Homo sapiens: one gene and its partner. The protein of the gene in region 1 interacts with the protein of each later gene in a biochemical or structural test. Each region holds a gene or a part of one and is shown on either strand. Other genes may lie near its edges. The genes, in order: TRPV4 and KAZN.

Region 1 (10,943 bases):
CAGGATGGTCTCGATCTCCTGACCTCGTGATCCGCCTGCCTCAGCCTCCCAAAGTGCTGGGATTATAGGCGTGAGCCACTACGCCCGGCCCTCAGCTGCCCTATTAAGGGATCGTAATAGGGTCGTTGTGAGAGGTATATACCTTGAGTCAAGTGCCTGGCATAAAGAAAGCCTCAATAAACAGCAGATTGCACAACAGATGGCTTCTCTCTGAGAATCCCGGATTCAAAGGCGGTGGAGGTCTCTGGCTCCGTCCCCATGCCCCAACTTGCGGAGGGTGGAAAAAGGGGCCCATCCTCGGGGTTACCCGCGGCTTTGCCTGATCTCATGGAAACCCTGGCAAACATTTGTCAAATCCCATCCTCCTGATTACGTGACCAAGGAAAGCTGCTTAAATCTGGGGGCAAGTTTGGGCATGCAAACCTGCTCCGCCCCAGCGGGGAGGAATCCAGGGAGCTGGTTTCTCCCGGTTCCCTCCCTTCTGGAATCAATTCATTCCACCAGGCATCAATGCAGTGGCACCTGTTTGCAGGGCACAGGGGAGACATAAAAGTGTGGAACCTCAGAGAACTCGCAGTCCAGGAGGGAAGGCTGATGGCTCTCTCTGCCTCCAGGCCTTTGCCTAGGCTGTTCCCTCCGCCTGGAATGCCCTTCCCTTCGCTGGCTGGCTCCCACTTACTCCTCAGGCCTCATGTTAAAGGGCACTTCCTCTGAAAAGCCCTCCTGTTTCCCCTGCTCTTTACTCTTAGAGTAACATGTGCCTTCCTTTACAGCACTTCCCACGATTAAACTTTTCTATATATGTATTTTTTTTTTCAAGAGAGTCTCGCTCTGTCCCCCAGGTTGGAGTGCAGTGGCATGATCTCAGCTCACTGCAACCTCCGCCTCCTGGGTTCAAGCAATTCTCGTGCCTCAGCCTCCTCGAGTAGCTGGGATTACAGGCATGCACCACAACACCCGGCTAATTTTTCGTATTTTTAGTAGAGGCAGGGTTTTGCCATGTTGGTCAGTCTGGTCTTGAACCCCTGACCTCAGATGATCCACCTGCCTCAGCCTCCCAAAATGTTGGGATTATAGGTGTGAGCCACCGCACCCGGCCTATATATTATTCTTTGATTCATCTTCTCTCTTCACCTCCAGAGTTTTAGTTCCATGTGGTAGGGACTATTTCGTGTCCCCTGTGTCCCCAGCATTCAGCATGGTGCTGAAGCAAAATGAGGTGTCAATGAATATTTGGTTTTTTTAGGCTGTAAGATCAGGGACCTGAAGTTCCAGGCAGGGTTGCAGAGCAAGGGCAGCCAGAATCCTGATGGGGAGGGGGAAAGGCTGTGAGGAGGAGGAGGAGGAAGATAAAGGGCAGAGGAGGTGTCAAGGACAAAGGTGTAGAGGGGAAAGTGCAGGGTGCACAGAGGAATGGTGTGGCCTGGGGCACAGGGAGAAGGAAAGCAGAAGAGATGGGTGAGTGGGTGGGCAGTGGGGAGGTGGGTGGGGGTTGGAATCCATGGGTAGGAAGGAGCCCACAGAGAAGGTGCTCAGGCTCCCAGACAGACCCAGTGTGCTTCTACCTCCCTCCACCCTGGGGCTCCTTAGCCAATTTGGGGGCCCCCACTTCCTGTGGTACCCTCAAATAAACACAACTGTGAGTGCCTGCCATTCCAAATCAGTCTTGCCGGGGACATGTGGATAGGAAGGTACTAGGAAGACAAGGACTCTGAGCTTTGCTGTTACTAGAGAGAAAATCCCAGACCTGTCCACCCCCTCCCCACCTTCCAGGTAAGAAAACTGAGGCTCAGAGAGGCGAAGTCATTTGTCTGGCATTGCCTTGCTCCAGAAAGGGGGAGGCAGGATTAGAACCCATGCATCCCCGGGACCTGCGCCTTTGATGGACACTTTACAAAGACAAGGGAACTCTGGGAGGGAGAAGCTGGAGAAAGAATGGAGTGGGGGATGGGTCGCAGTCCCTGACGAACCACCAGTTCACCAGCTCTGGGCAAGTCACCTGGCCTGCCCATGCCTCGGTTTCCTCACCTGAAAAATGGCAATGATCCTAGCACCTACCCCAAGGGAACTGTCGTGAGGGTTACATGAGATAAAGCATGCAAAACACTGAGCCCAGTGCCTGGTACAGAGCATGCATTCAGTCAAGCATGGCTGCTGTTGGAATCATCAGTATCAGTGTACTATTTATTAGTATCATTAGGGGAACAGATGAACAAAAGGACTGAGGACCAAGGAAGGCAATGACTCCTAGAGAAGGCAGAGCGGCCAGATCCAGAGCCTTGGAGGTAGACTCTGGCAGCCACCTCGAAGTGGCGGCTGCTGGGAACAGCCGGCTGGGAGCTCAACTCCTTGGCCAGGCGAAACCTACTGCCTGCCAGGCTACCCCACGGCTCCCAGGCACTTGGCAGGCGGCAGCAGTAGGGGGGCATCATGCCATGCCCAGCACCTTCCCTGGCCAGCCTGTATTTACCTAGCAGGTCTCGGCCCAGCCCGCTTCCTGTTTGCTGCACAGTGGCCGCCTGTCCAGGACAGACAGAGCCCCAGTGTCCTGCTGGGCCCCCACCCCATGCACTCACACCACCCAGGCAGGGCAGGTCTGGGGTGACTCACCGCGCCCCACGGAGGGCAAGGCCAGCGTGGCCACGGCAGTCATTTGGTCATTCTGCAAGCCCTTGGCTGGAGGGAGGCCGGCTGACAGCACACACAGATGCCCCTCTGAGCTTTCACAGGGACCAAGTCATTTCCAAGGGTCCCGGCCCCTGGGTAGGAGCCACCAAGAAGCGGTGTGGCTTAATGGTTAAGAGCATGCACCTTGTAGACACAAAAGGCCACATATTGCAGGATTCCATTTATATGAAATGCCCAGAACAGGCAAATCCACAGAGACAGAAAGCAGATTAGTTGTTGCCAGGGGCTGGGAGTGGGGAGTGGTGACTGCTAATGGGTACAGAGTCCTTTTTTGGGGTGATGAAAATGTTCTGGAATGAGATAGTGCTGATGTCTGTACAACTCTGAATACACTAAGAAACCAACTGAATTGTACGTTTTAAAAGACTGAGTTATGAGTATGTGAATTACATCTAAATGACCCTTCCAGGCTTAGTGACCTCAGGCAGGTCACTTCCCTCCCAGAACCTCAGTTTCCTTGTTGCAACATGGGAATGTCATGGAGATTAAGCACACATAAAGGGTTTCTTTTTTTTCTTTCTTGTGTGTGTGTGTGTGTGTGCGCATGTGTGTGTGACAGAGAGAGACAGGATCTTGCTCTGTCACCCAGGCTAGAGTATAAGTGGCACAATCTTGGCTCACTGCAACCTCCGTCTCCCAGGTTCAAGCAATCCTCCTGCCTCAGCCTCCCAAGTAGCTGGGATTACAGGTGCCCACCGCTGCGCCAGCTAATTTTTGTATTTTTAGTAGAGACGGGGTTTCACCATGTTGGCCAGGCTGGTCTCGAACTCCTGACCTCAGGTGATCCGACCGCCTCGGCCTCTCAAAATGCTGGGATTACAGGCGTCGGCCACCGTGCCCAGCCACATAAAGGGTTTCAAACAAGGTCTGGCACGTAGTAGGAGCTCAAGGATACAAAGTCACTACCCCAGGAGGCTCCAGGTCCTTCTTCCCTTATCTCGCTTCCTTCCCATCAGAGCATAGCCCCAGGATTCCACCCTCTCAGCCAGCCCTGCTTGAGAACATGCTACTCAGCTCCAGCCCAGGAGGAGGGAGGCATCAAATTCTTAGTCCGGCCGGGCGCAGTGGCTCACGCCTGTAATCCCAGCACTTTGGGAGACCGAGGTGGGCGGATCACTTGAGGTCAGAAGTTCAAGACCAGACTGGCCAACATGGTGAAACCCCATCTCTACCAAAAATACAAAAATTAGCCGGGTGTGGTAGCATGCACCTGTAATCCCAGCTACTCGGGAGGCTGAGGCATGAGAATCTCTTGAACCCAGGAGGCAGAGATTGCAGTGAGCAGAGATAGCACCACTGCACTCCAGCGGGGGCGACAAGAGCGAGACTCCATCTCAACAAAACAAAACCTTAGGCCCGCCTTCTCTCTGGCCTAGCCCCTCTCCTAGAGGATGGTCACAGCCACGGAGAACTCCAGAGAGGATTCTATAGTCTGAGAACGTTGCCTGATCAATGCTTTACATCTCATCTGCCACTCACTGGCTGTATGGTCTTGCACAAGTCACATCTCATCTCTGGGCCTTGGTTTCCTTATCTGTAAAATGGGAGTAATAATTACTACGACCTGGGTGGGGTTAAGCCGTATTTGCTCCATAGTTATTTGGTGTATAGCACATTCATGCTTTAAACTAAAAAATAAGGCTGGGTGCAGTGGCTCACACCTGTAATCCCAACACTTTGGGAGGCCAAGGTGGGAGGATCGCTTGAGCCCAGGAGTTCGAGACCAGCCTGGGCAAAATGGTGAGATCCCATCTCTACAAAAAATAAATAAATTTATTTATTTTTTAAAATATTAAAAAATAAAATAACAGCTCCTACCCCAAAGAGCTATTGTGAGGATTAAATGTGATAATTCAAGCCTTCAGTGCAGTGCCCAACAAACACCAAGTGTTCAATGAACTTGAACTTATTTTTTAGTTTAAAGCATGAATGTACTGTATACCAAATAACTATGGAGCAAATACAGCTTAACCCCACCCAGGTCGTAGCAATTATTACCCCCATTTTACAGATAAGGATGTTCAATGGCTGCTTTGCCATTCTTGCTAACATTCCCTCAGTTTGCAGTGGGAGGTGGGGGATGATGACATTGAGGTCCAGGGAGGTCAGAACTGGGCAGGCACTGGAACCCAGACTTCCCGGCTCCAAAACCAGGGCTCGTGACTGCAGAGACCTCACCTTTGGAAAGGGTTTCCTCGCCACCTCATTTCCATCTTCTGTCACCTTTAGAAGGCTGTCAGGACAAGGGCTGCCTCCCAGCTGGGAGACTAAGGACCAGAAGGGACAGGACACTCGTCCATGCATACGTTCCTCTACCCCACTTCTAGGAGCAAAAGTCCCGAGTTTGCCAAATCAGAGGAGGGGGAAGAGGGCAGGTGCCCGTTATGAGTGGATGGGGCAGGAGTCGGGGAAGGGAGCCCAAGGCAGCAGAAAACCAGTTTGAGATCCTTCCTCTGTCCCAGCCCACCTCAACACCAGTCTGTGCCAACAGTAAGCTGCTGCCTCAGGGGTTAACTGCTTGGAATTATGACTGAGGCTAATGCCTGCAATGTACCATCAGTAATGCCTACCCTCCATGGCACACTTCACACAGCACCTCCCATTTGGTTGTTTTTTGTTTTGAGACAGGGTATGGCTTTGTCACCCAGGCTGGAGTGCAGTGGCACAATCATAGCTCACTGCAGCCTCGACCTCCCAGGCTCAAGCAATCCTCCCACCTCAGCCTCCCCAGAAGCTGGGACCACAGGCATGTACCACCATTCCTACTTTTAAAATTTATTTTTTGTAGAGATGGAGTCTCACTCTACTGCCCAGGTTAGTCTCCAATGCCCGGGCTCACGTGATCCACACACCTTGGCCTCCCAAAGTGTTGTGATTACAGGCGTGAACCACCATGGCTGGCCCCTTCTATCTATTTTAATCCAAATAATAACTATAGACATTAAATATTATTGTCTCCATTCCCAGATGTATAAAGTCAGTCCCGGGGGAAAGGAGGTAAGGGCTGACATTTATCCAATACCTATCATATGCTAAGCACTTTCACATTTCTCTCTCATTTGAGGTCGGTGTTATTGTTATCATTTCACAGATGAACAAACTGAAGATCAGAAAGAATGAGATTTAACTGAGTCCACAACGCTACAGGAAGTGAATGTGGCTAGACTTCCAACCATCTGCTTTTAAATCCATTTGAGTTCATTCATCCCTTTGGGGGCTACCATGCCCTCTCCCTAGGACCCCCCTTCTCAACGCCATATCCCTTGGAACTCAGCAGGACAAGATGGCACAGTGGTGACAGGCTTGGAGTCTGAATCTTGACTTTGCCATTTAGTAACTGCGTGGCCCCAGACGGATCACTTGACCTCTCCGAGCTTCAGTTTCCTCACCTGTAAAAGGGAGCTCATCACAGTTCCCACTGCTGGATTACTTGTCATTGTGGGTATCAGAGTCTCACAAAGTGGCCTCAAAGCACTGCGTGTGGAATGATGTCACTCGGACAAAAGCTCTAGGGCGGAGGGACTCCCTTCTGGTAACTGCTGAGGCCCAGATGCCTGGAACAGGTCCTGGCACATAGCAGCTGCTCAAGATGTATTTGCTGGATGAATGAATGAATGAATGAATGAACAGAGGAAAGGAGTGAAAGACGGGCTTAGTCATTCTCTCCAGGGCAGACAGGTCTCCAAAGCGAACCTCTGCCCAGCTAACTAATTAGCTTCCTCCCATCCATTTTTTAACAGACAGCTTACGGAGCACCTGCTATGTGTGGGGTTTTCTGGCCTATAAGACCAACACCTCTCATGAGGACAACTATCGTGAGCCCATTTTATAGATGAAGAAATTGAGGCTCAACAAGACCAGGACACTCACTCAAGCACACTTGGTCTCAGAGCCAGAGCCTGTATCTGAGCAGGTGCTTCCTTCTGATGCCCTGCCTGGCTGGCTTGTCCAGTCACTCATTCCTTCCTTCATTCATCCCTTCACTCTATCTACAGGTATTCCTGAGCCCCTCCTGTGTGCCAAGCAGGGACAGGAGTGAGCCAGACCCATGGGTCAGTCAACCCCATGCCCCCTGTCCCACCCTCACCTGCTGGGGTCTCAGCCCAAAGCCCATGGAACCCACCCTCCATAAACACACACACACACACACACTACACACAAATACATATACACATTACACACATATACACATACATACACACAATATACACACATACATACATATACACGCAAACATACACACACATACACACATGCACACATAGACATTCACATACACACATACACATGTATATACATACACATATGCACACACATACACACAGACATACATATACACACATACACACATATATACACAAACATACACATAAACATATAGTCATACATATACACACATACACATATATACACATATACACATACACATATAGACATACATATACACACATACACATACACACACAGACACACATACGCACATACACACGCACATCAATATACACACACATACACACGTACACAAACACACACACAGGGAATGGTCCCAGAAGGTGGCCAGCCCACTCGGTCAACCGGGTGGAACCCAGGCCACTCCACCCTCAGGGGAAAACGGGCGCCTGGTGAGACTGAGGAGCTCTTTGTGCAAGGGGCAGGGTGGGTGGACAAGAGGGGCTGCTGTTACTCACTAACCAAAGAAATAGAAGGATATTCCCGTTTGGTCAATGGCCCGCCTGTCTGTCCCCTGAGCCCCCGCCTCCTTCTGTGGCCTTTCCAATGCCCTGACCTCATCTGGAGACCGGCAAGGGCTTCCTGTGCGCCTGGTGTGGTCTCGTGTGATCCTCCCTCACCGATGAGGAAACATGCTCAGAGAAGTGATGTAACCTCCTTGGGGTCACACAGCCGGCAGTGGCCAGGGCTCGGGGCAGAAAGGGGAAACCAATGCTCAGGAAGGGGCTAGGGGTGGGAAGGAAGTCAGAGTCACATTGAAAGTGAGGCCCTGTCCCTTCCTCATTCCTGTCCGGCCACTGGGGTGCCAGCTCATGGGCTGCAAGGGCACCCGAGGTTGAAGGAGCCCAGGCCAGAACAAGAGCAGCAGCCAGAATAACCCAAATCCCTCCTCAAGTTGGCAGAGCTCTGACCTCAGCAAAGCCCAGGAACAGAGAGCTTAAGCCACTTTCTGAGGTCACAGAGCAGCAACTGGCGGAGCTGGGAGGTAAGCTAAGGTGGCTCAGACGCCAAGGTGGGTGAGCCTAGCGTAGCTTTCCACGCAAGAAGCTAAGCTGGCCACTGGGCTTTTCGTGGACCCAAGGACACCAGTGTCACTCAGATCTGGCTTCCAGCTCCAGCTCTGCCATGAGCCAGCTGGGCATCCCTGGGTAAATTGCTTCCTCTCTGAGTCTCGATTTCCTCAGCTGTAAAATGGGGCTCAGCATTCCTGCCCCTGCCCACCCCCGGCAGTGGGGAAGCTGTGACACCATCAAAATGAACATCAGCCCTCACACCTGTAATCTGAGCACTTTGGGAGGCCAAGGCAGGAGGGTTACTTGAGCTCTGGAATTCCAGACCAACCTGGGCAACATAGTGAGACCCCTGTCTGAAAAAAACCTTTTTTTTTAATAAGCTGGGTGTGTCCCAACTACTTGGGAGGCTGAAGTAGGAGGATCTCTTGAGCCCAGGAGTTCGAGGCTGCTGTGAGCTATGATCACACCACTGCATTCCAGCCTGAGCAACAGACTGAGACCCTGTCTCTAAAAATAATAAATAAAAAAAAAAGTGAACAACAGGCAATAGATGCTGGTTTTAAACTAAACACTCAAGGTTGTGCTGAAGACTGTCCACAACCTCCCAGCAAGGCAGGCATTACCTTATCCCCATTGTCCAGATGAGGAAACTGAGGCCAAAGGAATAATGGAACTTATTGGAAGCTGGGATTTGAACCTGGGCAGCTGGGCTCCAGCCCTAGTTTTTAAGCATTAAATCAGGAAAGTAAAAAAAGTTGACAGCTCCTGGCACTCAGTCAATGCTCATAAATATTTCATTGCTGAAAACATATCATTATTTGCCCAAATGCAAGTCTAGCTTTGCCCCCAATACCTTCCACCCACCCACCTGGCATGGAGGGGCTCTCTGAGGATGTCTGGGGGATAAGCTGGAAGAAAACATGCCCTGGAATGGGCCTGGGGACAAGGGGAGCTGACACGGGCTGAGGCAGAAGAGCTGTGCTTCAGAGCCCCATCCACGTGCCTTGGGTCATCCCTGCAAAGTGGGATGAGAGTCCCTTTGACACAGGAGGAAATGGAAGCCCAGAGAGGCCAGGTGGCTTCCCTGAGCTCCTCCAGCGGGGAATAGCAGGCCTGTCTTAAACATGCGGATGCAGTTTAAGCCCAGGCCTGTCTGCAGTTCAGGCTCTTTGTTTGTTTTGAGACAGGATCTCTTGCTCTGGACTGCAGTGGCACAATCGCAGTTCACTGCAACCTCTCACTCCTGGGCTTAAGCGATCCTCCCACCTCAGCCTCTCAAGTAGCTGGCACTACAGGTGCGTGCTACCACGTTCGGCTAATTTTTGTATTTTTTCTAGAGACAGAGTTTCACCATGTTGCCCAGGCTGGTCTCAAACTCACGGGCTCGACCGATCCACCTGCCTTGGCCTCCCAGAGTGTTGGGATTACAGGTGTGGGCCACTGCACCCGGCCAACTCAGGTTCCTATCTCTGGACTGCAGAGTAGCTCCCCCATGACCCCAGGCACCCCAATGAGGGTCCAGACAAATGGGGACGGGCCACCTTACAGGTGAAGGGATGGATTTGCAATCACACAAATGGGATTCAGGTCCCAGCTCTGCCCCTTCTCAGCTGAGAGAACCCAGGCAAGAGATTTCACCCTCTAGACCTCATTCTGCCCTCTGAAAAATAGAGACAAAAATAGTTTTGTATCCAAATGTGCTGAGGGTGCTTGACTCAGTGCTTGGCACACAGTAAGTGCTCAATAAAGGCTTGCCACCATCATAATAGTTGTTAATGCAACCCAGGGTTGGCTAAAGCCAGACAGAACCTTGTACCCAGAGTTCATAACAGCAGCCACTTATCTCAAGAGATCGGAATTAATCTTTAACAGGTGAATTCTGCTCCAAATGGGCGATGTGGAGCATTCCAGAGGGCCCACTGGCATGAAATAAATGTTATCTTGGCTCCCCAGACCCTATCTGTGACAACAAGAGGAGCTGTTACCTGGGTCCCTATAATTTGGAGAACGGACTGGAGTGTCTTTCCCAAAGTCAAATGGGGGAAACTGAGGCAGACAGCAGGGTCAAGGGCCTGCATGGAGTAGAGACACCCACTTCATGTAGACCCCATCCCCCTAGGAACAGAGGAAGGAACTCAAAGGACTTTGACCATCTCAAAAGTATTTGTTCAGACAACCATGCCATAGATACTGACTGAGCACCTACTATGTGCCAGGCACATGAGGCTCAGTCTTGTGTGTTTCCTTCCCTCCTACATCTCCTTCCAGCTGCCGCTCTCCACTCAGAGCTTGGATGACTTCCCCAGCCTTGGGGCCAGCCTCTCTGTCTGAGCTCCTCCAATCTTTCCCACTCTGCAGCCACAGGGACCTTTCTAGAACAGACAAACAACCGTGTCACTCCCAGGCAGGACTTCTGGGCCTCTGGGTCTGATTTAGCTCCTGCCTGTCTGATCCCTCACCCTTTCCAGTCACGTCACAAACTCCAGACAAACAGAACTATTTCTCTGCTCTATAAACCCCAGGTGTAGCCACCTGGTAACAGGTAAAAGTCATATCTCTGCTAGTGCCATTCTCTTTGCCTGAATACTCTTTCCTCTACTTCTGCATTTATTCTTTAAGGTGCGGCTTAAACACTACCTTGACCAAGCCCTCGTGGGTCCTTCCTGGGCCAGTCCTCCTACCCTACGGCATTCTCCCCTGACCCCATCCATTCCACAGCATACATTTACTAAGCGTCGGCCATCCATGCACACCTTGCTAGATGCTCACAAGTCAGGTGTGGGAGCTCCTCCCCGGGGGGCCACAAGGGAAAATCCTTCTTGCCTTCACACGCCTCAGGCTACAGCGAAGCTGGGATTGGAAGCATCTCACTGCTCCAGTGCCCAGCCCAGAGCTGGCACAGGTGAGCTTGCAGAGAGCATTTGCTGGAGGAGGGAGTAAGTGGCAGAGGCCCAGTTGGCACCAGATAAGGCAGGAGGAACCTCCACAGCCCCTTCCCCAGATATAAGGTAT
Region 2 (10,892 bases), on another chromosome or scaffold:
CATGAGAGTTTCTCAGGGCACTGACTCCAGGGTCAAGAAGTTCATCACTCACTGGCTTCCCTTTCAGCCTTCCCCCTTTCCACCTTGTCCCACGTACGGATTCCTGGAATCCAGGATTTATCACTCAGCCTTACCAGGTGGAATGCATGAATGCCGCCTCTGGTCTCTGAGCTAGGCAGAAACGATGCTTCTGATAGGATAGGAGAGAAAACTGGGCTTTATGTGGGAGTATCTGAGTCCTGGCCCCCAGCTTATCCACTCAACAAGTATGTGCTGAGCACTGAAGGGATAAGAGGTGGAAGGAAGTGCAGGCAGTTTTGTGATGCTTGGACAGATCTCTTAACTTCAGTGTCTTCATCTGCCATGTGCAGATACCAGTACCCTCTCTACCCAACGGAGTTGTCGCAAGAATAAAATAAGAGAACTGTGAAAGTGCTTTGCAAAATTAAGATGTGACTAGAATTCCTGGAGAAGACTGAATGAATATGAGAAGGGTTTTAATGAGAGTAGCGAGAATATTTGTGGATATGAATTTGTAGGGGACAAGGAAGATGAATTTGTTCAATCAACCACAAACTCTTTGGAGAAGCATCTATCACACCAGACAGGGGGAGCAGAAAGCAGAATGGGATATAAACCCTGCCTTCCTGAGGCTCACGGTCTGGCTCATTGGGTACATGCGGGGGAGGGACGGAGTAGTTTTAGCCAGGGCATTTTACTGCATGCAATAGAAATAATCAAATTAGCTCAAGAAAAGGGCATTTATTCTTGGGAATTCCATGGAATCCAAGACAAAGAAGAATAAGCAGGATTGTTTTGGAAACCCCAGGAGTTTAAAGACCTTCACCCCAGGGAGCCAAACTCTTGGGGACTTATCTCTCAAATCCTTCAGTCTGTATTTCAAATTCCCAAATAAATAAACAGAACAATAACCAATGGCCATATACGCTATGAAATAAGTAAATGTTGAATGTTAAATCTGAGGGATGAAAAGGAATCAGATGCAGAGAGCCAGGGGGAGAATGTTCCAGGGAGAGGCAAGGGAAAAGGCAAAGACCTTGAGGTCAGAAACAATTAAGTGGCAAGAGAGTGGTGAGCAAGTGGTGTGGTGCAAGAAGTCAGTGGCCAGTTTATGCAAGGCTGTGGGTGTAATTTAGGAAGTGCCACGTGACACACATCAGTGGAAAGATGGGCCATTTTCTGAAGACCCTGGTTAAATTCTTCCCAGCCCCTTCACTGACAAAGCTGCGTGGTTCATTCCTAAATCTGGGGTCTCTCTTTCTCTGTCTGTAAATAAGGAGGGCACTAGAGTAGACAATCCCCATTGCCTTCTAGGACCAAATAGCGTCATTCAATCATAGAGTAGGGCAACCATATATACTGGGTTTCCTGGGACAATTCCTATGTATGCCACTTGTTTTAGCTTAATTCAATTACTCATTGCGCCCTCTTTTGCTCTCAGCAGCATCCCAGTCTTGACGTTATATTATGAGGTCACTCTATTTCTGGGAAAAGGGAGGTGCATACGGCTGTGCTGTCAGCAATGGGTTAGGCCCTTAGCCTTGATTCTTGATAGGAATTTCCTTTCTCTGAGCTACAGGGAAGCTGGTTTTGCAGACTTTTCAAAATACCCAGGCAAGCTTTGATGGGCAACAAACACACACGGCACAGTTGGCTTATTCTGCTCAGAAAGATCAGACAATGTACGTAGAGGCTGGTGACCACATATGAGCCGAGGCCTGGACCTTGGATGGGGTTGGGCTGGTTGAGAGTGATAGCAGCAGTGACAGTGGAAAAATGATAGCAAGTCCCTATGAAGTGGACCCATTTTCTGTCTTGGTTCTTAACATCAGCCTACTGGGGTGTGAGATTGGGACTATTTGGGGAACACGCAAAAGGGGGAACCCTGAAACAGAACCCACAGTACTGCCAAATTCTCATAGCTGTGAATCCCATGGAGAGACAGCTGTGGATGACAGACTTCTCTGGAATCCTTCTCCCAACAGTTTGCAGGTGTGTCCCAGGACACCGGCGGTAAACGCCTATCAGCCCCCATAGACAGGCAAATGGGCTTGCAGGAGGGGGTTAGGCCAGTGGGAGGGGACACAGATTCCGCTGACCAACTGGACCAACCAAGGCACTTAGAACTGCTTGGTGTAACTTTGGGAGGCCAAGGCAGGTGGATCACAAGGTCATGAGTTCAAGAGCAGTCTGGCCAAGATGGTGAAACCCCGTCTCTACTAAAAATACAAAAATTAGCCAGGGGTGGTGGTGGGCACCTGTAACCCCAGCTACTCGGGAGGCTGAGGCAGAGAATTGCTTGAACCCGGGAGGCAGAGGTTGCAGTGAGCCAAGATCACACCACTATGCTCCAGCCTGGGAGACAGACCAAGACTCCATCTCAAAAAAAAAAAGAACTGCTTAGTATATCTGCAAACCAGGATTCAGTTCTTTGTAGTCTTTCAGTTACCTTATGGGGGGGCAGCATCAAAACTACAGAGCTGTGTGGGTCTTGAAAAGGGGGATGCCGTGGTGCAGCCATTGTGGAAAACATATTAGCTGTTCCTTGAAAAGTTAAACATAGCAACCGTTTTGTTCCTTGAGGTCACCTCCGGAGGAGCGGTGGTAAAGCCTGGGGATAAGAAACGTAGACCCGGCCGAGCGCTGTGGCTCACGCCTGCAATCCCAGCACTTTGGGAGGCCGAGGCAGGTGGATTGCTTGAGGTCAGGAGTTCGAGACCAACCTGGCCAACCTGGTGAAACCCTGTCTCTACTAAAAATACAAAAAAAAATTAGAGGGGTGTGGAGGCCTGCACCTGTAATCGCAACTACTCAGGAGGCTGAGGCAGACAATCCCTTGAACCCAGGAGGCGGAGGTTGCAGTGAGCTGAGATGGCGCCACTGCACTCCAGCCTGGGCGACAGAGCAAGACTGCGTCTCAAAAAAAAAAAAAAAAAAGAAAAAGAAAAAGAAAGAAAAAAGAAAGGTAGACCTTTTTGGTTTAAATCAAGTATACCCGCAGAGGCTAATTGATTGCAGACTTTCTATCTAAGATCTAGTCCTTTGGTGTGTGGGTGAACATAAGGACACACAACTGGAAAAAGCCCCTTTTTTTCATGTTAGGAAAAAAAACTCTCAAAAAATAAAATTCTTAAAATCCTAGGAGGCACCCCAGGAGTTTCTAAAGCAGCTTCTTGAAACCTCAAAAATAGAGGGATGAGAAGGGGCTCAAGGAATGAGTCTTTTCTTTTCTCCTTATTAGATTTTTTTGTTTTGATTTGATTTGAAGATTCCGGTGTGTGGGAATAATCTCACTGAAGAGCAAAATGAGTAACACTGGGTCACTTTGTTTACTACACAAACACACTCACACGCATTCATTTACAGAACACTTACTACGGGCTAGGGCGGCAAGGACGCAAAGATGAATGACATAAAAAGCCGGATAACCCTCCTTCCCCCACCCACAAGTTCCCAGTGAAGTGGGAGAGAGACATATAAACAGATAAATTACTGTTTCTTCTGCTGAGTGCTATACCAGAGGTGTGAGTGCACGCACACGTGTGCGCACACACACACACACACACACACACACACGGCCCTCTAAATAGAGCTACTCTTAACTGTTTGCTCAGAAGCCCTAGTTCCAAAACATTCCCATCCTCTCTATTTGTGTATTTGCATATATGACTTTTTGATTGAGGTAAAATTTACATAACATGAAATTAAGCCCTTTAAAGTGAACAATTCAATGGCACTTAGTACATTCACCGTGTTGTGCCACCACCACCTCTGTCTAGTTCTAAAACATTTTCATCAGTCAGCACAAAGTAACACCCGGCACCTATTAAGCAGTTACTTCTCATTCTTCCCTCCCCACAGCCCCTGACAAACACCAATCTGCTTCCTGTTTCATGGATTTATTTATTCTGGATATTTCATATAAATTGAATCGTATAATATGTGACCTTCTATGTCGGGCTTCTTTCAACTAACATAATGTTTTGGAGCTTCATCCACGTAGTAGTAGCATGTATCAGTACTCTTCACGGCTGAGTAATATTCCATTGCATACTGCAATTTGTTCATCCAATCATCTGTTGATGGACATTTGGGTTATTTCTGCCTTCTGGCTACTAATGAACAGTGCTGCTATGAACATTCATGTACAAATTTTTGTTTGGATATTTGTTTTGGACATATACCTAGGAGTGGATTTGCTGGGTCGTATGGTAATCCTATGTTTAACTGTTCAAGGAACTGCTAATATGTTTTCCACAATGGCTGCACCACGGCATCCCCCTTTTCAAGACCCACACAGCTCTGTAGTTTTGATGCTCTCCCCATAACGTAACTGAAAGACTGCAAAGAACTGAATCCTGGTTTGCAGATACACTAAGCAGTTCTAAGTGCCTTGGTTGGTCCAGTTGGTAAGAACTTGTGTTAATGAGGTTAAGGTCAGGGTTCGATCCCCGAACTGACCCATTAGCTGAGCAGAGCGGACAGAGTGAAGAATTGTGTCTTCCTGCCACATGCTCCACCATCAAATCCTGCCCTCTTGCAAAAGCTTGTTAGTGGTCACAGGGGAATGGAGCAAGACTGTTTTTATGGTTCCACAGAAAAGGGGGGAGAAATCTATCATCCAAGGCCTCCTGAAGGCGCAGCAGGAGGAACTTGCAATCAGATGATTACTTTCTTCCAGTCCCGCTGTCACCTGGTTTCTGCGGGCCCCTTAAGTAAATTGCTTAACCCTATGCAGAGCCTCAGTTTCCTTATCCCTAAAATGGGAATAATAATCCTCACTCACAAGAGATAAGAATGCATATAAAAGCACTCTACACGCAGTTTTTGCTTGGTTCTTATGGGCTTCCTGTAAGAACCTGAAGGGTGGGCAGCCTCATTTTTCCTCGCAGCACCCCACTGGCTTCTGCAATCTGCTCTTTGCTGCTCTCCGGAGGTTGACTGAGCTGGAATGATGGCGCCCTGTTGACCAGAGGGTTGCTGGCTGTTTTAAATTGTCCTATTTGCATGGAATGAAGTTTGCTATGGTAACAAGGTCTGGTGGCTGGAATCCAGGGCCCCAGTGAAAAATGCAAAGCCTGTGGTCTGGGAGAGAAAGAGGAGCTGGAGAGGGCATATCAACGTCAGGTTACCTCAGTTCTTCTGTGAAGAGGGGATGGGTAAACTGAGGCAGCAGGGCTCAACTCTTCTGCTCCCAGTAGAAGAAAGGGAAGAAGCCCCATCGACGCCTTCCTTCTTATCTCTCAACCTCATCTCTGTCCCCGCCAATATTCAGCCCGGCTAAGAAGCTTAGGAGCTGGCTAAGGCTGCTCCTCCACCTGGATGCACACACAGGGCTAGGGCTGTGGAGAGGCGGGAGCACCAGCGGCCCACGCCGAGGAAGATAGGCGCTCCCTCCTGGGGTGGGCAGCGCAGGTCTGGCCTGCGGGTGGGGGGTGGAGAGTGAGAGGCACGCGGGGCACCAGCTCAGCTCCCCTCTGGGGATTTCGTACTCGCAGTTTAAGGAACCGGTGGAGCACGAACTCCACTCCTGAGCTGGCGCAAGCGTCTCCCTTCCATGGAGATCCACCCCGGCTCCCCTCTGAGGCCCCCTTTCCAAGCACCCTCTCTTCCGAGCACCCAGCACCTCCCCAACCTTAGCACGGCTCGGGGCACCAGTTCTCCAGGGCGGGGGCTGCCCCACCGCTCAAGGGAGGGGACAGAGGGCCGGCCTCGGTCCAGGCGACCCCTGCCCCTCGCCAGGGGCGCCACCTTGGCCCCCTCCCGACTGCCGTCCGCCGCCTCCGCCCCCCCGGGGGGTGTGTCTCCGAAGTACGGGGGCGCGGGAGGCCAAGGGTGCCCCCAGCCTCCGACCGAGACCCCCTCCCGAGCCGGCGGCGAATGGTAGGCTCCATTTAAAGAGTGCCTGGTGGCGCGCGGTGTCCTTCTTGGAGCAGCTCTCGGCGCCCGCCCGCCGGGGTCTCGGCGATCGCTGCTCCTCCTCCTCCTTCTCCTCCTCTTTTTTCTCCTCCGCCTCCTCCCCCCGCCGCCTCGCCACCGCCGCGGCTAGGGCTGGAGGCGCCGCTGTCATTCCTGTGCCGGAGGAACCGGCGCTGCCGGTGCCTGGGGGTCGGGGCGCGGGCGAAGCCGGGCCGCGGAGGACACAACAGGTAGAGCCGGGGGTGCCCGGCCGCGCGCCCCCCGCGCATCATGCAGCTCTTTGTCACCTCTCTCGCCCCCAGGCCAAAATCCTGAGCATGATGGAAGACAATAAGCAGCTCGCGCTCCGCATCGATGGGGCGGTCCAGTCGGCCAGCCAGGAGGTGACCAACCTGCGAGCCGAACTCACGGCCACCAACCGGAGACTGGCGGAACTGAGCGGCGGCGGCGGCCCCGGCCCGGGCCCGGGAGCCGCGGCCAGCGCCTCGGCGGCGGGGGACTCGGCGGCGACGAACATGGAGAACCCCCAGCTTGGAGCGCAAGGTAGGATCGCCCCGGCGCCCAGGGCGGAGGAAGGCGAGCAGAGCACGCCCGGCCTCGGAGGTGGCCGGGGACCCGGGGTCCCCCACACCCGGGGCGAAATCGCTTTGCATTCTGGCTTGTAACCCTTTCCGCCCGGCGGTGGCCACCGCTGCTCTCCGGCTGGGAGTTGCAGGCTGCTGTCATTCACGAAAACCCGAGCGCAGTGTGCACGGGGTCACACGGTCACACCGGCCCCGGCCAGCCTGAGCGAGGCGCAGCCGGCGGGTCCCTTCCGGCATCAGAAAGTGCCCTTTCCGTGGCACCAGCCCCCTAGCTCCGTGCAAACTTTTCATGCCGGGGCCTTTTCCCCACCCCCCGCAGGGGTGAATGGCACAGTTCCCCCCACTTCCTTAGGCTCCTTCCCAGAGAGAGCTCCGGGCTCTGCCGCCGTGGTTGGGATAGAGGATTGCACTGCTGTGCACTTTTCTCCGCGGATGCCAAATCCCTTGGCTCAGTTGCATCTGGACTTTATTTTCTTCTCATTTGAGGTCTCTCAGGCATTGGAATCTATAGATGCAACAGTAGATGCTCAGCTCAGCAGGGAGTTTAAATTTCCGCAAATATAAACACCGAGAGCACTTTCCAGGGGGATACTGTAGACCTCAAAGGTTGAGCGGTAGAGAAATGAAGGCTTAGGGTGGTGGGCTGCAGGGAGCCCGTTTGAAGGGACTCTGCGGTTTAGAGAAGAGGAAGAAAAAGACAGTTGGTTTGTGTTCACATTGACAGAGATTAAGCTCTGAAACCCCCTGCAAGACATAAAGGCGGATGGGGCATTCCCTAAAATGTACTGTTTGGTTTCTGTGACTTAGAAAGTAAAAGGGTAAGCAGGCTTTGGGGGATTTTTTTTTTCTTTTTGCCTAATTGCCCTTTAAGAAACAGTATCACTGGTTATTAATATCATTTGAATTGCAAATTAAACTGCTGAAATCCAGAACAGGACAGAAACAAATCTCCAGTCCATGAGGTCCACTTGTCTAAATATGTCACTTGAAGTGCAAGGTACCAATTGCTCAGTGGCTCAAAATGATTTTCTGGTTCTGTTGTCATTTCAAGAGCTTCTCTTGAGGGTTGAGAGAGTCTGTTTTCCTAAGAATCTGGTTCTCTCCATCAGTCTCTGTTTCCACCTTATCTTCCTGGGAAGGTGTGCTTTCTTTGAGGTGAGATGTGAAGCCTGCCCACGTGCAGTTTTATGTCGAATTCCAAGTCAGATCTTAACTTGGTACTCCCGGAGCCTGTTGGAAGTCTTAGGAATTGGGGGGAGTACTTTGGTAAGGAAGTAGCCATGACGTAATGGTGAGAAGGTGTTGTGGTCCTAGTGCTTGCTGCAAGCTTGACATGTGGTTATTCTTGTCATCCTTGCAATGTCATTGTGTGCGAAAGAACATTCTCCACTGGAACCTGTGCAAAAAAAAAAAAAAAAAAAAAAGACAGACTGCAAGGTAATGCTTCACTTTTTATAGGCAGAGGCTCTGCTAACATTAAAGAAATAGCTAAGAACTGGCATTTTGCTAAGAATCAAAAGCTGTATAGTAAAGGACACTGAACAATGCTCGTTTATTTCCCACTGTCTGCCCCTTTCTCCGCGAAGGAAAAGTTAAGTGGCTTTTTATCTGAGTCCTGGGTCTGGTTGTAGACTGGGCAGGCTAAGGCAGTCAACGCAGTAATGATGTCCACATGCTCAACTTGAAAACTGACATACTCGCGGATGGTTAAATTGTTGTAGTGGAGCAACAGGGGGCTGATTCCTTGTTCTTTTTTCCTACACAAATGCACAGGGCTGTGGAAATGAAAATGGCTTTTGGATCTCTTGGATATCCTTAAAAACACATAAAACCAGCAGCTCCCATACGCTCTCAGGACTGTGCCTGCCCATGTCAGTGGCTGGCTGTGGGTGGTAGGATGAAGGGTGGTCTTGATTTCTCCTCTTTGTACATTGGTATGTCTCAAAATCTTTCCTAGGGGCACTTTGTGATTTTTATAATCAGAAAATAAAATGTTCAAAGGTTTAAACTCTACTTGATTGTTGGCCGCATAACCGTCTAAACTGATATGCATTTCAACAGATGTGATGGTTGAAAAGAAAACAAGCCCCCGTATAAGTTCAGTGGGGTATCATTTACTTGTCTGTAGCAACAGTACTTGATACATTATTTAGCCTCTGTAAGTTTGGGGGATTTTTTTTTTTTGATGGGGGCGGGAGTTGTTTTTGTTTGTTTTTGTTTTTTTCATAGCCTGTGGCAGCATCCTGCTAGCACAGAAACCCTCTGCAGAGGTGGTCTGGTAGTTTCTTTTGCCATTGCTTTCATTATCCTAAAAAGAAGCCTTGAGTTCTCACACAAGTTAATTTTAAAGTGCAATTGATTGGGTTCCACTTGATTCTTCGTAATACACCTCCAGGGAGGCTCCCAGAGGCTCAGCTCCTCAGGGTTTCTGACTGTTCTTCCAAATTAGTCTTGTGTTTTCATTTTGTCTGTGTTGGTGCAGTTCAATGGGCCCAGACCCTAAGAGTGTTTAAGTGCTATTGAGTTATCAGTTTTCAAATCAAGGTTTTGAATAAAACGAGTATCTTTGCATTTCAAAATGCAACCGTGTAAGTCATCTTTTAACGAAAGGGCATTATGCACATATTAAATGCATGCTAATGTAACTTTAACAATATTAGTACAAATGGTTTTGGGAAAGAGTCACCTTTTGCTTCCTCTGCCAAGAGACTGTTAGATTCATTTTCAAATGTTTTTGTTTTTGTTTTTTAAATTCTTTTTTTAAATGAATGAAGCAAACTCATCAATCCATCATTGGCTGTTTTGTTCCAGGGATGACAACGGGCAGTAGGTAGGTTGGTATCCCCTTTTGATGAAGAAAATTTGGGTTTTCCTAGCGGGTTAATGCAGTGTGTCATTTAAACAAAATATTAACTTGGTTGGTACTCCCTGTGAGCTGGCATGGTTGCTATGTAACAGAATCTAGAAAGTGAACTGCTGAAAATCTGGGCTTTCGGCACTTCGGAGGATATTCTTTCGGAATCTGTGTTGAAAGAATTCCTGGCAGCCAGCCCATCTTGTCTCTCCCTCCTGCAACTGAGTTGGATAATCCTTAATGAGAATGCTGGCGTACAGTGCAGAGGGCGTCCGTGCAGGGTGACACATTTCAGAGCTCCAGAGGCTGCCTTTTGGGTCGGTGGGGTCACGGCAGCCTTTGACAGGTGGACAGAAGGAGGCTTGGAAAGAACAGAGCCAAGCATTTGTTCCAATTCATCTTGTTGTTGGTAGCCAGAGAAGGGATTTGTTTAAAGTAACATTTCTAAGCTGTTTTCCTCAGCATAACATCTCTGGGAAAATGTGTTTAAAATGCTTGCTGTTCTTTGAGGGGAAAATGTAGCAGTTTGTTTCTCTGAAAAAGTTTTATCAGCTGATGAATGACTAATATTAGATTCAGTTGGTTGCTTTGCTATGCATAGAACAAAACAATTAAGTGCTATGGTACCCAATTCAAATAGGTGTTAACTGTATATAACAAAATACTTAATGCCCAGTAGGATGTATGCCTACTGTCATTAGTTTTCTTTGTTAAAGAAATAATTGTATTTGTATTCCTATGCAAGTGGACGTGCTGATAGCATCTTTCTTTGGTGTGGAGGACTTCCTGCCTACTGCATTTGTTAGAAGGGGATGGAGGCAAGGGTCGGTTTCCTGTACCTTTGTACATTTCCATAAATGCGTGCAAGTTGTATTTTTCTCTCCAGGCATTAAAATAGGCTGTTACTTAAGGCCTGACAGCTCTCATCTACCATTACTACAACACTGGAAACTCTTTCGTGAAGTATAAATTACCTTTGGAGTGAATTGAATGTGTGAGTAGTCTGTGGAGACGCTAGACACTGTCGCTTTGCAAAGTAAGTTCTGTCTTTTGGCATCCCCTTCTCAATTCATTCTGCCTCTGCTCTTGTTTTCCTAAGTAGACTTTTATCTTTTTTGAGAAAGAGAATTTTCAAATGGCAGAGAGGATGGAACAAAATGTTGGGGAATCTCGGGCCTTCTGTTAGCTTGCCACTAAGTTACAGAGCTCAGCAAGTAGCCTGCGCCATGGTTTTCCAGCCAGATCAAGGGGTTAAAATAGAGTGTGTCTTTTCCTAACCTGTCATGGGATGGGGATTCAGTCTTCTCCCTGAAAATTGTCATGTGTGGTCACAAAGAGATTACTTACAGATCAGTACAGTGTGGTTGAAATTACTTATTGATTGGGGATTATTTACTATCTTTCCATTGTCTTTGGAAAATGCCTTCAAAGGACCTCTTAAGTCAAGTCTCTGATTCTGGTTAATTTCATGCTTCCATTGTGCACTTCATGATTTTTAGTGGTTTTCCAACACC

Evidence for each region.
Region 2: the proteins of TRPV4 (region 1) and KAZN interact in a test that uses a peptide from one of them, tested with the Homo sapiens proteins (one study listed by BioGRID).

Annotation. Positions count from the first base shown.
Region 1 is NC_000012.12:109,820,733-109,831,675, forward strand, and holds part of TRPV4 (transient receptor potential cation channel subfamily V member 4), read right to left. Parts: intron 6,871-10,943; exon of another isoform or gene 6,078-6,870; intron 1-6,077. UniProt on the Homo sapiens protein: Non-selective calcium permeant cation channel involved in osmotic sensitivity and mechanosensitivity. Activation by exposure to hypotonicity within the physiological range exhibits an outward rectification.
Region 2 is NC_000001.11:14,592,741-14,603,632, forward strand, and holds the start of KAZN (kazrin), read left to right. Parts: upstream 1-5,944; 5' UTR 5,945-6,242; coding exon of another isoform or gene 6,243-6,257; coding exon 6,258-6,483; intron 6,484-10,892. UniProt on the Homo sapiens protein: Component of the cornified envelope of keratinocytes. May be involved in the interplay between adherens junctions and desmosomes. The function in the nucleus is not known.